Linked DNA regions of Homo sapiens: regions 1 and 2 are each linked to region 3. The links come from fine-mapping of genetic effects on gene expression. A gene starts in region 3. Each other region holds a variant in brackets. All regions are shown on one strand. Distances are from middle to middle. Region 1 overlaps ZNRF1 (zinc and ring finger 1). Region 2 overlaps WDR59 (WD repeat domain 59). Region 3 holds the start of WDR59 (WD repeat domain 59).

What was found. PIP is the estimated chance that this variant, and not a neighbour inherited with it, causes the effect.
Region 1: its variant is fine-mapped to the expression of WDR59 in whole blood (INTERVAL, PIP 0.91).
Region 2: its variant is fine-mapped to the expression of WDR59 in whole blood (TOPMed, PIP above 0.99).

The regions. Positions count from the first base shown.
Region 1 is chr16:75,008,697-75,014,654 of GRCh38, forward strand. The region is part of intron 1 of ZNRF1 (zinc and ring finger 1); the gene reads left to right. Among named protein-coding and RNA genes, the nearest start is that of ZNRF1, 13 kb to the left of the region's middle. RefSeq lists enhancers at 3,124-3,233, 3,544-3,633. The variant G/A (reference allele first, on the strand shown) is at 2,593.
Region 2 is chr16:74,909,152-74,915,109 of GRCh38, forward strand. WDR59 (WD repeat domain 59) reads right to left here. Exons shown (of 26, transcript NM_030581.4): 14 at 3,047-3,211; 15 at 671-766; 16 at 350-506. Among named protein-coding and RNA genes, the nearest start is that of WDR59, 73 kb to the right of the region's middle. The variant C/T (reference allele first, on the strand shown) is at 2,254.
Region 3 is chr16:74,982,860-74,988,817 of GRCh38, forward strand. It overlaps WDR59 (WD repeat domain 59), which reads right to left and starts at 2,264. Exons shown (of 26, transcript NM_030581.4): 1 at 2,105-2,264. The coding sequence starts at 2,158. RefSeq lists silencers at 2,010-2,319, 3,355-3,555 and an enhancer at 2,650-2,709.

The sequences.
Region 1 (5,958 bases), 26 kb after region 3:
TAGAGCAATTAACTTATTCTTTCCAAGAATCTTTGCTTCCTCACTCCTTAAGAGTCTGAATATTTTAGCTTCTGGGAGATTTTACCTTTTCATCAGCTCCTCTGTTGAATAAACAAATAAATGTAGGTGTTTGTCCATAAGGCTGCTGCAAGGATATACTTCTCTTCACTCATTTTTTTCCAAAGCCCTATTTCTGGGTTGGGGCAGGTGATCTTTTCTTTGTGATTCCAGCTAAGTACCTACCAAGAAATTCCTCGTATGTCTCAGTATGAGGGGTCCTCTGTCCTCTCAGTGAGAATATCAAAAGAAAAACTGATTTTCAGACTCTTCATGTGCATCTTTAATTTCAGTATCTTTGTCATCCCTAGAGCCACTTTTCTTTCTGGTCATTGAACACTATTTTCTAGAAGCATGATTCACCACTTTTTAAATCTGTCTCTGTAAAATTTATCCCAAGCCACAAATACCCATAAGGAAATTTCATCCTTGGTATTATAAGTCTATGTCTCTGAACTTCACAACATCTACACTTCTGTGCTGGCTCCCCTCTCCCCCACCTCCCCAGTTTTGTTTTGTTTTTTTAACTGTCATAAAATATATGTAACAAAATTTACTATCTTAACCGTTTTTAAGTGTACAGTTCAGTGGTATTCTAAGTACTGCATGTAAGTGGACTCGTACAGTATTTGTCTTTTTGTGGCTGTCCTATTTCACTTAGCGTAGTGTCCTCAAGGTTCATCTGCATTGTAGCATATTTCAGAATTTCCTTTCTTTTAAAGGTTGAATCGTATTCCATTGTCTGTCTACCACGTTTTACTTTTCCATTCATCTGTTGCTGGACGCTTGGGTTGCTTCCATATTTTAGCTATTGTAAATAGCTGTAATTCATTGTTAGAAATGTGAATTTCTTAATATCTCTTCAAGACCCTGCTTTCACTCCTTTTGAGAATATACCCAGAAGTGGAATTGCTCCATCATTTGGTGATTCTATTTTTAATTTTTTGAGGAACCACCATACTGTTTTCCACAGTAGCTGCACCATTTTATATTCCTACCAACAGTGCACAGGCTTCCAGTTTCTCCACATCCTTGCCAATACTTGTTATTTTCTGTTTTTTTTTTTAATAGTAGCCATCTTAATGGATGTGAGGTAGTATCCCATAGTATTCATTTGCATTTCTCTAATGAATTAGTGATATTGAGCATCTTTTCATGTGTTTATTGGCCATTTGTATATCTTTTTTGGAGAAATAATCTATTTATATGTCCATGTTTGAATCAGGTTGCCTCTTTTCTTTTCTTTTGATACGGAGTTTTGCCCTGTTGCCCAGGCTGAAGTGCAGTGGTTCAGTCTCAGCTCACTACAACCTCTGCCCCCCGGGTTCAAGCGATTCTCCTGCCTCAGCCTCCAGAGTAGCTGGGATTATAGGCGCCTACCATCATGCCCTGCTAATTTTTGTATTTTTAGTAGAGACAAGGTTTCACCATATTGGCCAGGCTGGTCTCGAACTCCTGGCCTCAGGTGATCCACCCGCCTCAGCCTCCCAAAGTGCAGGGATTACAGGTGTGAGCCACCACACCCGGCCTGGGTTGCTTTTTTCTTTCGTTGTTGATTTTAGTGCAGTTTTAAGAAACTTTTTAAAGCCTTGTTTATGATAGCCAACACTAGTGACTGTAATGTATTCCCCTCGGGAATAAGTAATAAATCTGTGTTATATTTGAGTACATTTTGCTCAAAATAAAGAATTTAACGAATTGTCTCATGCCAAGAGATTTTATGAGTACTTTGGCTGTTGGTAGTGCCTTACTTTCAGAAGGATAATTTTTGGAGAAATTTCACTTCGTATTTAGGTATGTATGGTCTCTCATCTTGGTCTTGGTGAATCAGACTTGTCATAGGAGTGCTCCAACTTTCTTGTTGGTAGTAGCTTGAGCCCTCTGAAAAGTAATTAATCCATACTTCATAAAGAGTTGTTCTGAAATTAGTCACCTCTGTACTGTACTGTTTTTTTTTGTTTTTTTGTTTTTTTTTTTTTGAGGAGTCTCGCTCTGTCACCAGGCTGGAGTGCAGTGGCATGATCTCCACTCACTGCAACCTCTGCCTCCTGGGCTCAAGCAATTCTCTTGCTTCAGCCTCCCAAGTAGCTGGAATTACAGGCATGTGCCACCACAGCCGGCTAATTTTGTACTTTTAGTAGAGATGGGGTTTCGCCAATTGGCCAGGCTGGTCTTGAACTCCTGACCTCAAGTGATCCGCCCACCTTGGCCTCCCAGAGTGCTGGGATTGCAGGCGTGAGCCACCATGCCCAGCTGGGAGAAGCTTTAACCTGGATTCAGGAACAGAGGTAGGAGAACCTAAGATCACAGGCCTCATCTGACGTGGTCATTTTGCACATACTTCTTAGCTTTTTGGAGATCTTTTCATTTTGTTTCCATCTTAAATAACCTTTTCCCTGTGGAGAAGGTGCCTTTTTTGGAGAGAGCCATTAAGATTCTTTTATCCTGCTGCCTGCCTGAGTATTCTGGGAATCCTACAAGGATTTGAGGGAGCCCTTGGGATTCCAACCTAACAAATTAGTTTTCTGTAATATT[G/A]TTCTAGTCCATTTAGATTGTGTAAATGATCTAAATGGTGTAACCATTTAATATCAAAAGTATAACAGCATTTAAGTCAGCTTTTCGAAGAAACTTTTATTTTTTAACTAAAAACAAACTTTTTTTCAGAGACAAGGTCTCACTATGTTGCCCAGGCTGGACATGAACTCCTGGGCTTAAGACATCCTCCTACCCTAGCCTCCTGAGTAGCTGGGACTGTGGGCACACGCCACCATGCCTGGCCAAAGACACTTTTTTATAGCTCTGCCTGCTGCTATAACAAGTGTTCCTAAATACCCATGTACATCCTATATTATTAGATTTCCTCAACTCTGGTTAGCTATGACTGAAACATTCATGCCATTGCAGCCAGTGCCCTGGAAAGCTATAAGCAAGTCTTAAGACCTGTGATAAGGGCTGACTTGCAAGCTAGCTGCCATCCATCTTAATATCTGACGAGCCCAGTCATGTTGGCTGTGTTTAATTGATCCATTTCCTACTTGCTTCCTCAACCCAGAGGCCAAGGGCAGCACAAAAGGATAGTGAATCTAAATGTCTCCAGTTTTTTGAGGTATAGGAATCTCCTATGAAGTGGCAGACCTTTGAGAAATAGTATTATGAGCTGTTCTGTTTTGCTGTGGCTTTGGAAAACCTTTGGATTCCTCTACTGAAAATTTGTTTGAAAAAAAAATCTTTTTAATGAAACAGTGTGAGTCATAAAGCAGCCACCACCCCTTCTCATAATAGCATTTCTCACCAGGGGAATTTTTGGTAGCTGTTGGGGGAGGGATTTGAGTAGGTTGTGGATGATAAATCCCTTGAGGGGAACATAACCAAAGGCTGCCATATCAGAACGCTGGTGCTTTCCATGCTGACACCAAGCCCTGAATTCAAAGTGCAGGACAGCAGAATAGAACAGAGAAGCCTGTGCTCAGTGAATTGCTGCAGTAGCATGACCAGTGAGACTGGAGTTTCAATTAAAACACCGTTGTAGTGTAAAAGGATCATGAGATGGAAGGAGGCCTTGGGTTAGAGAGCCAGAAGCCATTTATAGGCAGAACATCAGCTTTCTGGATTAAAGGATGGCTGTGGACCTAATGATGAGAATCTAGAGGTCATGGGGAATTTCCTTACTGTCTGTGCCCCCCTTTTCCATATGGTCAGCTTGGTGCTTGGCACTGATCATGGCACACTTTACAAAAAGTGGATTCATATAAGGTCGTCTGTGCTCTTCTAAGATTTTAGGTCTAAAGCATTTAGAGTGGCGCCCAGAGGAGACGCCACCCAGTCAGCCTCCTTGTGGCATAGTGAAAATGAAACATTTAGGGATACTGAGAGCTTAGAACAAGCCAGAATTATGATATCAAATCTCAGTTGCCTGTCTTAAACTTTTCTGCCAACCTAGCGTGAGTTTTAGCTGTTTTCAACTTCATTATTTACAGTTTCTCGGGACTCATGTCTGAACCACTATCTTACATAAGCTACAGACGGGAAGGGCTGAACGGTTATTAGAAATGTGTTAAGATTTGCTTTCCTTTGGAGAGTCATGGCCTGTCTTCTGTGTTTTCCTGGCTTTGTACTTTTCTTCAAAGCCTGTTACCGGTTCCAGGTCTCCAGAGCTCAATAAAGGGGAAACAGGAAGTGAGCATTTGATGCATAAGAGCCAGCAAAACATAATAAAGGGCACAGGCATGGAACCAGGAGAGAGAATTGTGGGAGTGAGTTTTCTTGAAGGCATCAGTTCTGTAGGATTAGAGATACATCCTTCAACAATGACTTTTAACTCCTTCAAACAAGGAAAAAGCAATTAGGAACCTCTGTTCAGAAAGGACCAATTTTTCTTAGGTTATATAGTAGAGGTTCAACACTTTCATATGACAGCATACAAGTAATTATAAAGTATCTTTTGCCTAAGGAGTTCAGAACACAGAGAAAAGTGATGATCACCTTTATAAAGGAGTAAGAATTACTTCTCTGTCTCTTTACTTGAGGGCCCACAGGGTAAGTCTTATCATGAGTTCCAGCCTGGAGCCCTGACTCTTACTTTTTCTGTCCATTCAATTTTTTTTTTTTTTCCGAGATGGAGTCTCACTCTGTCGCCAGGCTGGAGTGCAGTGGCGTGATCTCAGCTCACTGCAACCTCTGCCTCCCGGGTTCAAGCGATTCTTCTGCCTCAGCCTCCCGAGTAGCTGGGACTGCAGGTGCATGCCACCATGCCTAGCTAATTTTTGTATTTTTAGGAGAGATGGGGTTTTACCATGTTAGCCAGGATGGTCTCAATCTGTTGACCTCGTGATCCACCCGCCTTGGCCTCCCAGAGTGCTGGGATTACAGGCGTGAGCCACCGCGCCAGGCCTGTCCATTCAGTTTTAGTAATGAACTCTGAAGTTTTAGTCCTGCGGTTACTAAATGGAAAAGTCAGAGATTTGTGCTATTTCAATTTGGTTCACTTGTACATTTCAGGAACTCAAATAGCTGTGTGACTCTGAAAATGGGAACTCTTTGGTGTCTTGGAATTATTTATTTATTTATTTTTAATTTAATTTTATTTTTTTTTTCGAGACGGAGTCTCACTGTATCGCCCAGGCTAGGGGGCAGTGGTGTGGTTTTGGCTCACTGCAACCTCTGCCTCCCAGGTTCAAGTAATTCTCCTGCCTCAGCCTCCCGAGTAGTTGGGATTACAGGCAAACACCACCACACCCGACTAATTTTTTGTATTTTTAGTAGAGGCCGTGTTTCACCGTGTTGGCCAGGCCGGTCTTGAACTCCTGACCTCAGATGATCCACCCGCCTTATCTTCCCAAAGTGCTGGGATTAGAGGTGTGAGCTGCCGCGCCTAGCCTGGAATTATTTTTTTAAAAATGAAATATTTTAGGCATTCAAGAAAGATAATATGCTCACCTACCAAGCAGATTATAATAACTAAAACATTACAGGTATAATTGTATGTACCCTGGCTTATTCCCATTTTCTCTTTCCCTCTCCAAAGGGAACGACTGCCCTCACTCGTGTTTTTCCCGCCATATATGTTCATGCTTTTGCTCCCTGTAGCTATCCAAAACACCATTTGTTTTCTGTAAACTTCATGTAAACTGTATAGACATGGAAGGAGAAAGATATTATGAGGTGTGTGTGTGTATATATGCTACCTCAAAATGGAGGTAGTATATAAATTCATTTTACTACTTATTGCTATAGCACATTTATTTTCACAGCTATACTCTATTGATCTATTTATTGATCTATTGATCTATTCTGTTATCAGTGGATATTAAAGTTATTTTTAGTTTTTGAAAATTTTGTTTCATTACATACGTGAATGAGTTTTTCTAGGGTACATCCTTAGTCATGAAATAGTGGGGTTAC
Region 2 (5,958 bases), 74 kb before region 3:
TCCAGGATCCAGGAGAGAGGATGTATGTGGACTGGGCAGAGTCATCAGCAGGACTCTAAGCCTCCCTACCAGGCGAATGCCCCCTGCTAAGAATCAGGGCTCTGAGTAAAGACTCAAATCCAAGCTCATCAGAATGAAGAAAGTTAAGACCCCCATTCTGGTGCACCCTCTTAGGATAAGTCCACAGACACCGACTGGGCCTCAGACCCTACCACGCTACCATGAAAGTCTCGTTTGAGTTCTCGGGAGTAAAAGCAAACATTTTCTGATGAAGATGTTTATACAGAATCTATGACATTCTTAGCTGCTCCCTCTCGAAATCTAGAATCAAAGAACCAAAGAGACCCACCTGCTCCGCAGAACCTGGCCCCAGAAGTCCTAGGAAAGGGAATGTTGGCGTCCTGGTACGACCCGTAAGCCGTGGTCACCCGCGCAAACGTCGGTAAGGGGGGAGTGACAGAGTTGGGGAGTGCAAACGGGTTGCTGGAAGCGCTGTCTTCCTGGTTCTGAAATTTAAAAATCCACAAGCTAAAAACCACAACCTGTCTTAAAGCTGAACTACAAAATAAAGACCCAGTATGACAAAACCAGAAAACCCATGATTTTAGGGAGAAAGAAATGAAACAAAACACCAAAGCCTAAGTTGGTATGACAGTTTCATGCTTCCCACCACAAAGGACTCAAGGCAGGAGACGAGCTGGCGCAGGCAGGGCTCCAGGCAGCTCTGGCCACGCTTCACTTTCTGCAGGGCTGTGTCCTTCAGGATCTAGAAAAGGCCCAAAACACAGTCAAGAAGAGGAACACATTTCTCTGATAGGTTTTTTTTTTTTTTTTGAGACAAAGTCTCTCTTTGTTGCCCAGGCTGGAGTGTAGTGGTACGATCTCGGCTCATTGCAACCTCTGCCTCCCGTCTTCAAGTGATTCTTGTGCCTCAGCCTCCCGAGTAGCTGGGACTACAGGCGCCCACCCCCATGCCTGGCTAATTTTTGTATTTTTAGTAGAGAAGGGGTTTCACCATGTTGGCCAGGCTGGTCTCGAACTCCTGACCTCAAGTGATCTGCCCATCTCGGCCTCCCAAAGTGCTGGGATTACAGACATGAGCCACTGCGCCCGGCCCTGATTGGCTTTTCTTCTGCAAAGTGGTCAGACACAAGGGTGATGCTGGGAGCCAGGTGCATGGTTAAGTCAAGGCTTCCAACACAGTGTAATAATCTAATTTCTACCTCTACCGAGGTTAAAACAGGATTCACTCCTGAGCCCTCCTAGAGAAGCTCTTTCCTTAATCAAGGCAGCACACGTGGATTTTGAGAGGGCAGCTTTCAGTAACAGAAGGACTATTACTTCTTTCTAGTGAACTCTGCCCTTTTCCTCACCCCCAACACCACTTGCTCCATGAGAAACGTCAGTACCTTAGAAGTAATACTCACTGGCCTGGATTGAAATTGCTCTCAGTGACAAGAGGCATGGATTTCACTTCAGTGAAAATTATAATGTATATTTTTTGTCCTTCAAAAGTATAAATCCTAACACTTTAAACCCATTTATGCCTAATGTTCCATTATTGGAACACTAAGCTTGTGGGAGTTATTTATATCCTACTGCTGAGTCATCGCCAAGGTCTGATTTTTCCTTTGTTTTTTTGAGGAGTGTCGCTCTTACTGCCCAGGCTGGAGTGCAATGGCATGATCTCCGCTCACTGCAGCCTCCGCCTCCCAGGTTCAAGCCATTCTCCTGCCTCAGCAGTCTCTGTTGCCCAGACTGGAGTGCAGCCACGTGATCTTGGCTCACTACAACCCCCACCTCCTGGGTTCAAGTGATTCTCCTGCCTCAGCCTACCGAGTCGCTGGGAATACAGGCATGCGCCACCACGCCTGGCTACTTTTTCTATTTTTAGTAGACATGGGGTTTCACCATGTTGCCCAGGCTGGTCTTGAACTCCTGACCTCAGGTGATCCACCCGCCTCAGCCTCTCAAAGTGCTGGGATTACGGGAGTGAGCCACCGCACCCGGAAAAGGTCTGATTTTTCACACACAAAAGAGTTCGCAACCTAATCGTATCATTTTATACTAACAGAAAAATCTATCTTTTTTGTATGTCCAAACTAGGCAACGGCATATTCAGATTCCAAGTTTAACATGTCAAATACCACAAGATCTGAGTTACTGGCATTTCAGAGATCCTTAAGCCACTTGAAAATTTCCTGGTTCCATGTGATACCCCCAACAAGGTGGAACAATCAAGTGTCCACGACC[C/T]AAACTGGACAAAAAATGAGCAACATTCAGCTTGGCCTGAGTTTGTCAGAATACTTCAGTCCCTTCACTTGTGACACTGCTCAGACTGAACGGGTATGAAGAGGCTCATGGGGCTTTGTCATGGAGATTCCACCTGATTTGCTCTGGATGAACTGATGCATTAAATCTCTGAATCTGCAGAATTAAACACAGATGCCAGGCTGTGGTGCCTCCACCTGGACACCTACTGTGCAGCTAGCCAGCCTGTCTCTAGGATAACACCAGCTCCTTCTATGGGATAAAATTTTTTTTATGACCTTACATATGTTTTTTTCTAATTATAAAATATCTTTTAGCTTCAGAATACATCTTGCTTGTTGTTTTCAGGTAAATGAAATTGGACTGCAGGGCTCCTAACCTGGGCTGCTAAATGAAATTGGATTGCAAATCTCCTAACCGGAGATGAATGCATAGTATTAATGAGATCTGTGGGCAGATTCTATGCAATTCACATATTTACAGGCAATATTTCTCAAATCATATGCAATCATTGTGCAGATTTTTCTGAGGAAGGGTCCATAATTTTCATTAGAATTCAAAGGAAGTCTATGACCCAAAAAAGGTTAAGAACCACTGCTCTGATGTTTTCTGCACAAAGTAAATGGCAAGTTCAGAGGTTACGTTGCTAATACTAGTGTGTGTACGAAACAGATGACTTCCGAATCTCATCTACTGGAGTTTTCATTCTTCTTTACTAATCCATCTAGACAATGATGCAGAACAGCAAGGAGAATTTGGGAACCCAGACCCCCACCTTCAGCAGCTTAGCTTTCATGGTGGATGTGATGGTTGTGGGGTTAATAAACTGGAAGGAAGGGGCGGCGTTGTTTGGGTACTGTGCAGGGAACTTCACCAGCATCTTGACACGATGGTTGCTGCAGTGCACAGACACTGTGCAGCTCCTGTCTGCCGCATCCATCTGCAAGAGACAAATCCACAATTGCTGTAGAAACAAACCATAAAGCGTCTTTCGATGCAAGCACATTTAACTGAACGCTCCATGTTCCTGGTAATTGAATGAAGGGAAAGAGTCTACAAAGACAAATGTGTGTGGAAGACAATTCATTTTCAAAAAGATTCTTAAATTTTCATACCAGATTCTTAAAATTTTCAAACCAATGGAATAAGCTCAAAGTTGCTGAGACCAGCTCGGTCGGGGTGACCCTAAACCAGCAGTGCCAGAAGAATTAAAGACACACACACAGAAATATAGAGGTGTGGAGTGGGAAATCAGGGGTCTCACAGCCTTCAGAGCTGAGAGCCTTGAACAAAGATTTACCCATGTATTTATCCACAGCAAGCCAGTGATAAGCATTGTTTCTATAGATTATAGATTAACTAAAAGTATTCCTTATGGGAAACAAAGGGATGGGCTGAAATAAAGGGATGGGCTGTGGCTAGCTATCTGCAGCAGGAGTATGTCTTTAAGGCACAGATTGCTTATGCTATTGTTTGTGGTTTAAGAACGTGTTTAAGCGGTTTTCTGCCCTGGGTGGGCCAGGTGTTCCTTGCCCTCATTCCGGTAAACCCACAGCCTTCCAGCGTGGGCATCACCACCATCATGAACATGTCACAGTGCTGCAGAGACTTTATGGCCAGTTTTGGGGCCAGTTTATGGCTAGATTTTGGGGGGGGGGGGGGCCTGTTCCCAACATGTCCCCCTTCTTTGATTTGCAAAGTGATAAAAGCAAAGGCAGCTTTGTCACGGTGAGCTACTTCTTGCAGGAGTCAAGATCCACATCTGCAGACTACACAAAGACAAACAACACAGAGGGTCAGTTTATGGCCAGATTTCAGGGGGCCTGTTCCCAACACAAAGTATTCTTTTTTTTTTTTTTTGAGACAGGGTCTCACTTTGTCACCCAGGCTGGAGTGCAGTGTGGCACAATCTCAGCTCACTGCAACCTCCACCTTCTGGGTTCAAGTGATTCTCCCACCTCAACCTCCCAAATACTGGGACTACAGGCCACCATGCCCAGCAAATCTTTGTTTTGTTGTTGTTGTTGTTGTTTTGCTTTTTGTGTTTTGGTAGAGATGGGGTTTCGCCATGTTGGCCAGGCTGGTCTCAAACTCCTGACCTCCAGTGATCCACCCACCTTGGCCTCCTAAAGTGCTGGGATTACAGGCATGAGCCACCACGAAGTTCAAAGTATTCTGACTTTAACAAAGCTTCCTCCCTCCCAAAGCTGTGGGGTAGACTGAAACTTGTTATATTTACTTTGAGATGGGAAAATAAAGCAGGAAGAAGTTAAATACCAGACTCAACTTAAAAAGTGCTCCTGGGAAAATCCATAGGGGAAGAAAGTAGATTCGGGATTGCCACGGGCTGAGGGAAGGGGAAATAGGGAGTGACTGCTCATGGGTATGGGGTTTCTTCTGGGAATGATGAATATGTTCTGGAATCAGACAATGGTAATGGCTGTACAACTTTGTGAATATACCCACAACAGCCAGATTATATACTTTAAAAAGCGGAATTTTGGCTGGGCACAGTGGCTCACGCCTGTAATCCCAGCACTTTGGGAGGCCAAGGTGGGCAGATCAACTGACATCAGGAGTTCGAGGCCAACCTGGCCAACATGGCAAAAACCCCATCTCTACTAAAAATACGAAAAAAAATTAGCTGAGCGTGGTGGCGTGCGCCCATAATCCCAGCTATCTGGGAAGCTGAGGCAGGAGAATCGCGTGAACCCGAGAGGCAGAGCCTGCAGTGAGTCACGGTAGCACCACTGCACTCCAGTCTGAGCGGACAGAGCAAGGCTCCATCTCAATAAAAAAAAAAAGATGAACTTTATACTGTGTGAATTATATCTCAATAATTTTTTTAAAGTACTCTCGAAGAAAGGAATCAAGATCTTAAACTAGATCACTAGGTATCCACACTGTCCTCAAATGGGACAAAGGGAGTATAAACTGACTTGATATAGATCACTAATTAAGCAAAGAATCCTTTATATCTTTTCATTTCTTGTGTTGCCAACTAGAGACAGCAGCTGGAGTAAAGAGAAAAGAACCACATGTGGCAAATCTGGAGACCTGGATTCACATGTTGTTTCTTCCACCAAATAGCTGCTGACCTTGGACATTTCTTCTCTTGATGTCTCCGTTTCCTCAGCTGTAAAGTGAGGCTAAAACCACTTACAGCAGACTATTTTTTTTTTTTTTTTCGAGACGGAGTCTTGCTCTGTCGCCAGGCTGGAGTGTAGTGGTGTGATCTCGGCCTCACTGCAAGCTCTGCCTCCTGGGTTCAAGCGATTCTCCTGCCTCAGCCTCGTGAATAGCCGGGACTACAGGCGCACGCCACCATGACCAGCTAATTTTTGTATTTTTAGTATAGACGGGGTTTTACCATGTTGGCCAAGAAGGTGTCGATCTCTTCACCTTGTGATCCGTCTACCTTGGCCTCCCAAAGTGCTGGAATTACAGGCGTGAGCTACCGCACCTGGCCAGCAGACTTGTTTTAAAAGCCACATGAGATAGTTATGTAACAGCACATATTTGGGTAAAGGAAAAACTAATCAAGCTTTAAAACTCCTTTCTGGAGAGATACTCAATTTTCTGAAGCAAAGACTTTCAATACTTGCCCCCAAAAAAGTAACTGTTCCACAGGCTAAGCAAACAAAGAAGTTTTGGTTGCCTTCTTACTGTGAATCTAAATTACCAGGA
Region 3 (5,958 bases):
AAAGACAGGATGGGGTTTTGGAAAGAAGAAACCACATCACCCATTCATACTTATCCAGATCTCCCTCAGTATGAATCACCTGTGCATGGTATAGTGTATACCTGAAGGGAGCTCAGTAAATCCTTGTTGAATAAATGAGTGAATAAAAGTGTGGCACACAGAAGGTATTTGATAAATATTAGTTGAATAAATGAAAAGAATGGCCAGGCACAGTCGCTCACACCTGTAATCCCAATATTTTGGGAGGCCAAAGTGGGAGAATCGCCTGAGGCCAGGGGTTCAAGACCAGCCTGGGCAACACAAAGAGACTCTGTCTCTACAAAAAATAATAGGCCAGGTGTAGTGGCTCACACCTGTAATCCCAGCACTTTAGGAGGCCAAGGCAGATGGATCACTTGAGGCCAGGAGTTCAAGACCAGCCTGGCCAACAGAGCGAAACCCCGTCTCTACAAAAAATACAAAACTTAGCCAGGCATGGTGGCACGTGCCTGTAATCCCAGCTACTCGGGAGGCTGAGGCACAAGAATCGTTTGAACCTGGGAGGCAGAGGTTGCAGTGAACCAAGATCATGCCACTACACTACAGTCTGGGTCATAGAGTGAGACTCTGTCTCAAAAAAAAAGGTAAATAAATTTAAAATTGAAGAGAATCACCAAGACACTGTCCTAGGTGCTGGGGAAGAGGGGATGTATATGACCGGTTCAGAGCTACCCACTATGAGTAAAGTAGTCCAATGAGCTAAACAAGGGCTCTGGGGTAGGATCCAGCATCCAAATCCCAATGCTGTGTGTGCCACACATCCTCAACATACAACCACATAAAATCTTCACTCGAGGCTGTGCTCAGTGAATCACACCTGTAATCCCAACACTTTGGGACGCTGAGGCAGGGGGTTCGCTTGAGCCCAGGAGTTCCATACCAGCCTGGACAACATAGGGAGACCCCGTCTCTACAAAAAAAAATGAAAAATTTAGTCGGGCGTGTTGGCATGCGCCTGTAGTCTCAGCTACTGGGGAGGCTGAGGTGGGAGGATAGCTTGAGCCCAGGAGGTCGAAGCTGAACTGAGCGGTGATTCACGCCTCTGCACTCAAGCCTGGGTGACAGAGCCAGACCCTGTCTCAAATGAAGTAAAATAGGCCAGGCACGGTGGCCCACGCCTGTAATCCCAGCACTTTGGGAGGCTGAGGTGGGTGGATCACCTGAGGTCAGGAGTTCAAGACCAGCCTGACCAACAAGGTGAAACCCCGTCTCTACTAAAAATACAAAAATTAGCCGGGCGTGGTGGTGCGCACCTGTAATCCCAGCTACTTGGGAGGCTGAGGCAGGAGAATTGCTTGAATCCCGGAGGCGGAGGTTGCAGTGAGCCAAGATGGCACCACTGCACTCCAGCCTGGGCAACAGAGTGACTCTCCATCTCAAAAAAAATAAATTAAATTAAATTAAATAGAAAATTAAAAAATAAAATCTTTAAGCCAATCTTGTAAGTACGACCATCTCCCTTCTACAGGTGAGAAAACTGACGTGTACGGAGTGATGACAGGGTAGGGGCTGCGGGATTCGAACTCGGGCAACACGTGCAGTGTCACTCCTATCCACTACACGGTATTTTCCAGTATGATGGCATTAAGAACCACTTAACCGCGTAGACGCTGCAACAGGCACTTTGCAAACAGTGTTTCATCGAATTCACCCCAACAGGGTTACGTCCACGCAGCTGAGACTTAGAAAAGTCCCGCGACTTGCCTTAAGTCGCCACACGCGGCTAGGGCCTCGGGAAGCCGTCACGCCCTCGCTCCGTACCCTGATTGTGGGAAGCCTCCCCTCAGCACTCACGATGCGCAGTCTCTGCCTCAGTGTCACAAGGCGGACCCCACTCCCCTACCCGCGTAGGGAGCCCCGAAACTCCGTCCATGCTCGCCCCGATTGCCCCCGATGGTCGTCTTCCCTCCCCCGACGGGGCCTAAGAGGTCGGCTAAGCCCCGCCCACCTCCTCAGTACGGGGCCTAGGGTCTCCCCGTAGCCCCCCGGGACGGAAGCAGCCGCGTGGGGGAGGGGAAGCGGGGAGGACGCATGCCCAGAGGGCTCCACTCGGCCTCTAGCTCACCTGGGAGTCACGGAACTCTACAACCACGTTTTCGCTGCTCCATCGCGCCGCCATCTCCCCCGCCCGGCCGCCGCGGCCCCAGGACGGCGCCCTCCCACCCCGCCGTCCCCAGTATCCCGGGACCGTGCGCCCCACACAGCCAGAGAATCAGCCCCGACACGCCCCGTGCCCTGGTTGCTCCTGAGCTCAAGCCATTGGTTGACCCAAGCATAGGCTCCGCCCCTTCTTCCTGGGTCCTCCAATTGCTACACCGCGCCTGCAACAAACAGGCACGCCCTCGCTCACTTCCGTCACTTGGTTTGAGTCACCCACGCTCCTCGCGATTGCGGGCACACCCCCTGCCGCGAGCTCTGCCGGGAGTTGTAGTCCAAGCTCGAGCAAGCGTGGGTGACCTGGGAAGGGCTCGCAGGTTTGGGTTTGGGTGAGGTGAGGTGCCTGTTGTCCTGACTAGCTCCTCGCTGGAGTCCCCAGCATTCGTCCAGACCCAGTCTCAAATCAAAATCAACGTTCGGGGCGGGTGCGGTGACTCACGCCTGTAATCCTAGCGCTTTGGGAGGCCGAAGTCAGGAGTTCGAGACCAGCCTAAACAACATAGTGAAACCCCGTCTCTACTAAAAATACAAAAATTAGCCGGGTGGCGGGCGCCTGTAATCCCAGCTACTTGGGAGGCTGGGGCAGGAGAATCGCTTGAACCCGGGAGGCGGAGATTGCAGTGAGCCGAGATCACGCCATTATACTCCAGCCTGGGTGACAAGAGCGAGACTCCGTCTCGGAAAAAAAAAGAAAAAAGAAAAATCAAAGCTCGTGCAAACCGAAGATACCTCTTCTCCTGATGCCTATCCCATCGAGATATTTAAAAGTCTGAATGTGCAATTTATTGTTTCATACAATACAGCAGCGCCTCCCGTAACAATGAAGGTAGACTTAAATGTGAGAATCCAGCTGTTTTCTTGATCTGTAGTCCAATGCTCTACCTGTGAGCTATACCCCCTCCTGCAATCCAGCTGCTTTCTTTCCTTTTCTTTTTTTTTTTTTTTTTTTTTTTTTGAGACAGAGTCTTGCTCAGTCGCCCAGGCTGGAGTGCAGTGGCGCGATCTCGGCTCACTGCAAGATCCGCCTCCTGGCTTCACGCCATTCTCTTGACTCAGCCTCCGGAGTAGCTGGGACTACAGGCGCCCGCCACTACGCCCGGCTAATTTTTTTGTATTTTTAGTAGAGACGGGGTTTCACCGTTTTAGCCAGGATGGTCTCGATCTTCTGACCTCGTGATCTGCCCGTCTCGGCCTCCCAAAGTGCTGGGATTACAGGCGTGAGCCACCGCGCCCGGCCGCTGTTTTCTGATAAACCAAACATTAAAACAGATTTGCCAGAATTTTTTGTTGTTTTTTTTTTTTTTTGAAAATATTGTTCTTTTTCATTTTAAAATGTATTCATGTGAAGGGCCTTAATGTTTAAATGAAATAATGAATATATTTTTTAAATTCTGTATACTACATATAAAAGTTTTTGGGGGCCGGACGCAGTGGCTCATGCCTGTAATCCCAGCACTTTGGGAGGCTGACGTGGACGGATGGCTTGAGCCCAGAAGGAGGCTGCAGTAAGCTAGGATCACATTACTGTACTCCAGCCTGGGCGACAGAGCAAGACCTTGTCAAAAAAAAAAAAAAAGTTTTTTTGGGATTTTCAGTAATTTTTAACAGCAGTGTAAAGGGATTCCAAGATCAAAAAGTTTGAGAACCACTGTACTAACATGGTGGGTGGTGATTAAGTTTCCTTTTCAGTCCCACACTCTTAAATGTTGATTTAACTGGTTTAGCTTCAGTTTCCCTATAGAAGGGAAAAATGGCTTACCTCATTGGATTGTTGTAAGGAACTAAGCACAGGGCCTGGGATGTAGAAAAGCTCAACTATAAACTATTAATTCAGTTCTAGAAGCCAGGAAATCAATAAAAATAAAATAAAATAAACTGTTATTGTTGTTGTTAATATTATCACTATTTGTATGTGCAAGTCATTGTATGAATAGAGGTAAGAAAGTGTGGTCTCTTCCCTCCTGGAGTATTGGCTATAAGGGGGAAGACAGACTTGTTGACAGATTACGGTGACTAACTTGTTGCCTGGACCGTTTCATGTTTTATTTTTATTTTTTTGGAGAAAGGGTCTCGTTCTGTCACTGAGGCTGGAGTGCAGTGGTGTGAGCATAGCTCACCACAGCCTCCAACTCCTGGGCCCAAGCAATCCTCCTGCCTCAGCCTCCCAAGTAACTGGGACTACAGGCATGTGCTACTATGCCCAGCTATTTTTTTTTTTTTTTTTTTTTACTTTTTGTAGAGATGGTCTCGTTGTGTTGCCCAGGGTGGTTTCAAAGTAGTGGCTTCAAGCAAGTGATCCTCCGGCCTCAGCCTCTGGATTAGCTGGGACCATAGGTGTGAGCCACCATGCCTGATCCCTTTTCATATTCTAGCACTGCATCACCAAAAAGTCTTGCATCCCAAGAAACCCATAAGTTCCAGGCAAACTGGGACAACTGGTTACTCTACAACAGGAATGTGCTTGGCAGAATGACTTGTATATTATAATAGATTTGCAAGCAATATGGCAGGAGAGAAAAGCCTAAATAGGCGACCCGAAATGGCATCTTGAAATCTTGAAGAATATGACATCTGAGCTTTGTTTTGTTTTGTTTTGTTTTGTTTTGTTTTGTTTTGAGACGGAGTCTCCTTCTGTCGCCCAGGCTGGAGTGCAGTGGTGGGTGGATCACTGCAAGATCCGCCTCCCGGGTTCACGCCATTCTCCTGCCTCAGCTCCCAAGTAGCTGGGACTACAGGCGCACGCTGCCACATCCGGCTAATTTTTTGTATTTTTAGTAGAGATGGGGTTTTACCGTGTTAGCCAGGATGGTCTTGATCTCCTGACCTCGTGATCTGCCCACCTCGGCCTCCCAAAGTGCTGGGATTACAGGCGTGAGCCACTGCATCCGGCCCGACATCTGAGCTTTTCAGTATAATGTTAAGATATTGATACAGTACACTATGAAAAAAAAAAAAACACTTCACCATTAAGAGTGTGAGCAAAGGCTGGACGTGTTTGCTCACACCTGTTATTTGACAGAATCATTTAAGTCCAGGAGTTCGAGACCAGCCTGGACAACATGGCAAGACCCCATCTCTAAAAAAAAAAAAATTAAAATTAGCCAGGCGTGGTGGCATGCATCTGTAGTCCCAACTACATGGGAAGGTGAGGTGAGAGGACTGCTTGAGTCTGGGAGGTTGAGGCTGCAAAAAGCTATGATCGCGCCACTGTGCTCCAGCCTGGGTGACAGAACAAAACCCTGTCTCTAAAAAAAAATTAAAATTAAAGTCATTTCATTCCTGACTGGCTACCTCATCCATTATCTTCATGTTTCTCGAATTTGTGATACAAAGAACAACGTATAGCCAATCAGTAGCTTATGTTATTTTGAGGTAAATTCTTAGTAAAGACTTTAGGAACTGCCCCTTCTTTTTCTTTAGAAACCCACCGTAGGCCAGGTGCGGTGGCTCACGCCTGTAATCCAGCACTTTGGGAGGCCAAGGAGGGCGGATCACGAGGTCAGGAGATCAAGACCATCCTGGCTAACATGGTGAAACCCCGTCTCTACTAAAAATACAAAAAATTAGCCGGGCGTGGTGGCGGGCGCCTGTAGTCCCAGCTACTAGGGAGGCTGAGGCAGGAGAATGGCGTGAACCCAGGAGGCGGAGCTTGCAGTGAGCCGAGATGGCACCACTGCACTCCAGCCTGGGCGACACAGAGAAACTCCGTCTCAAAAAAAAATAAATACATACATACATAAAATTAAAAAATTAAAAAATTAG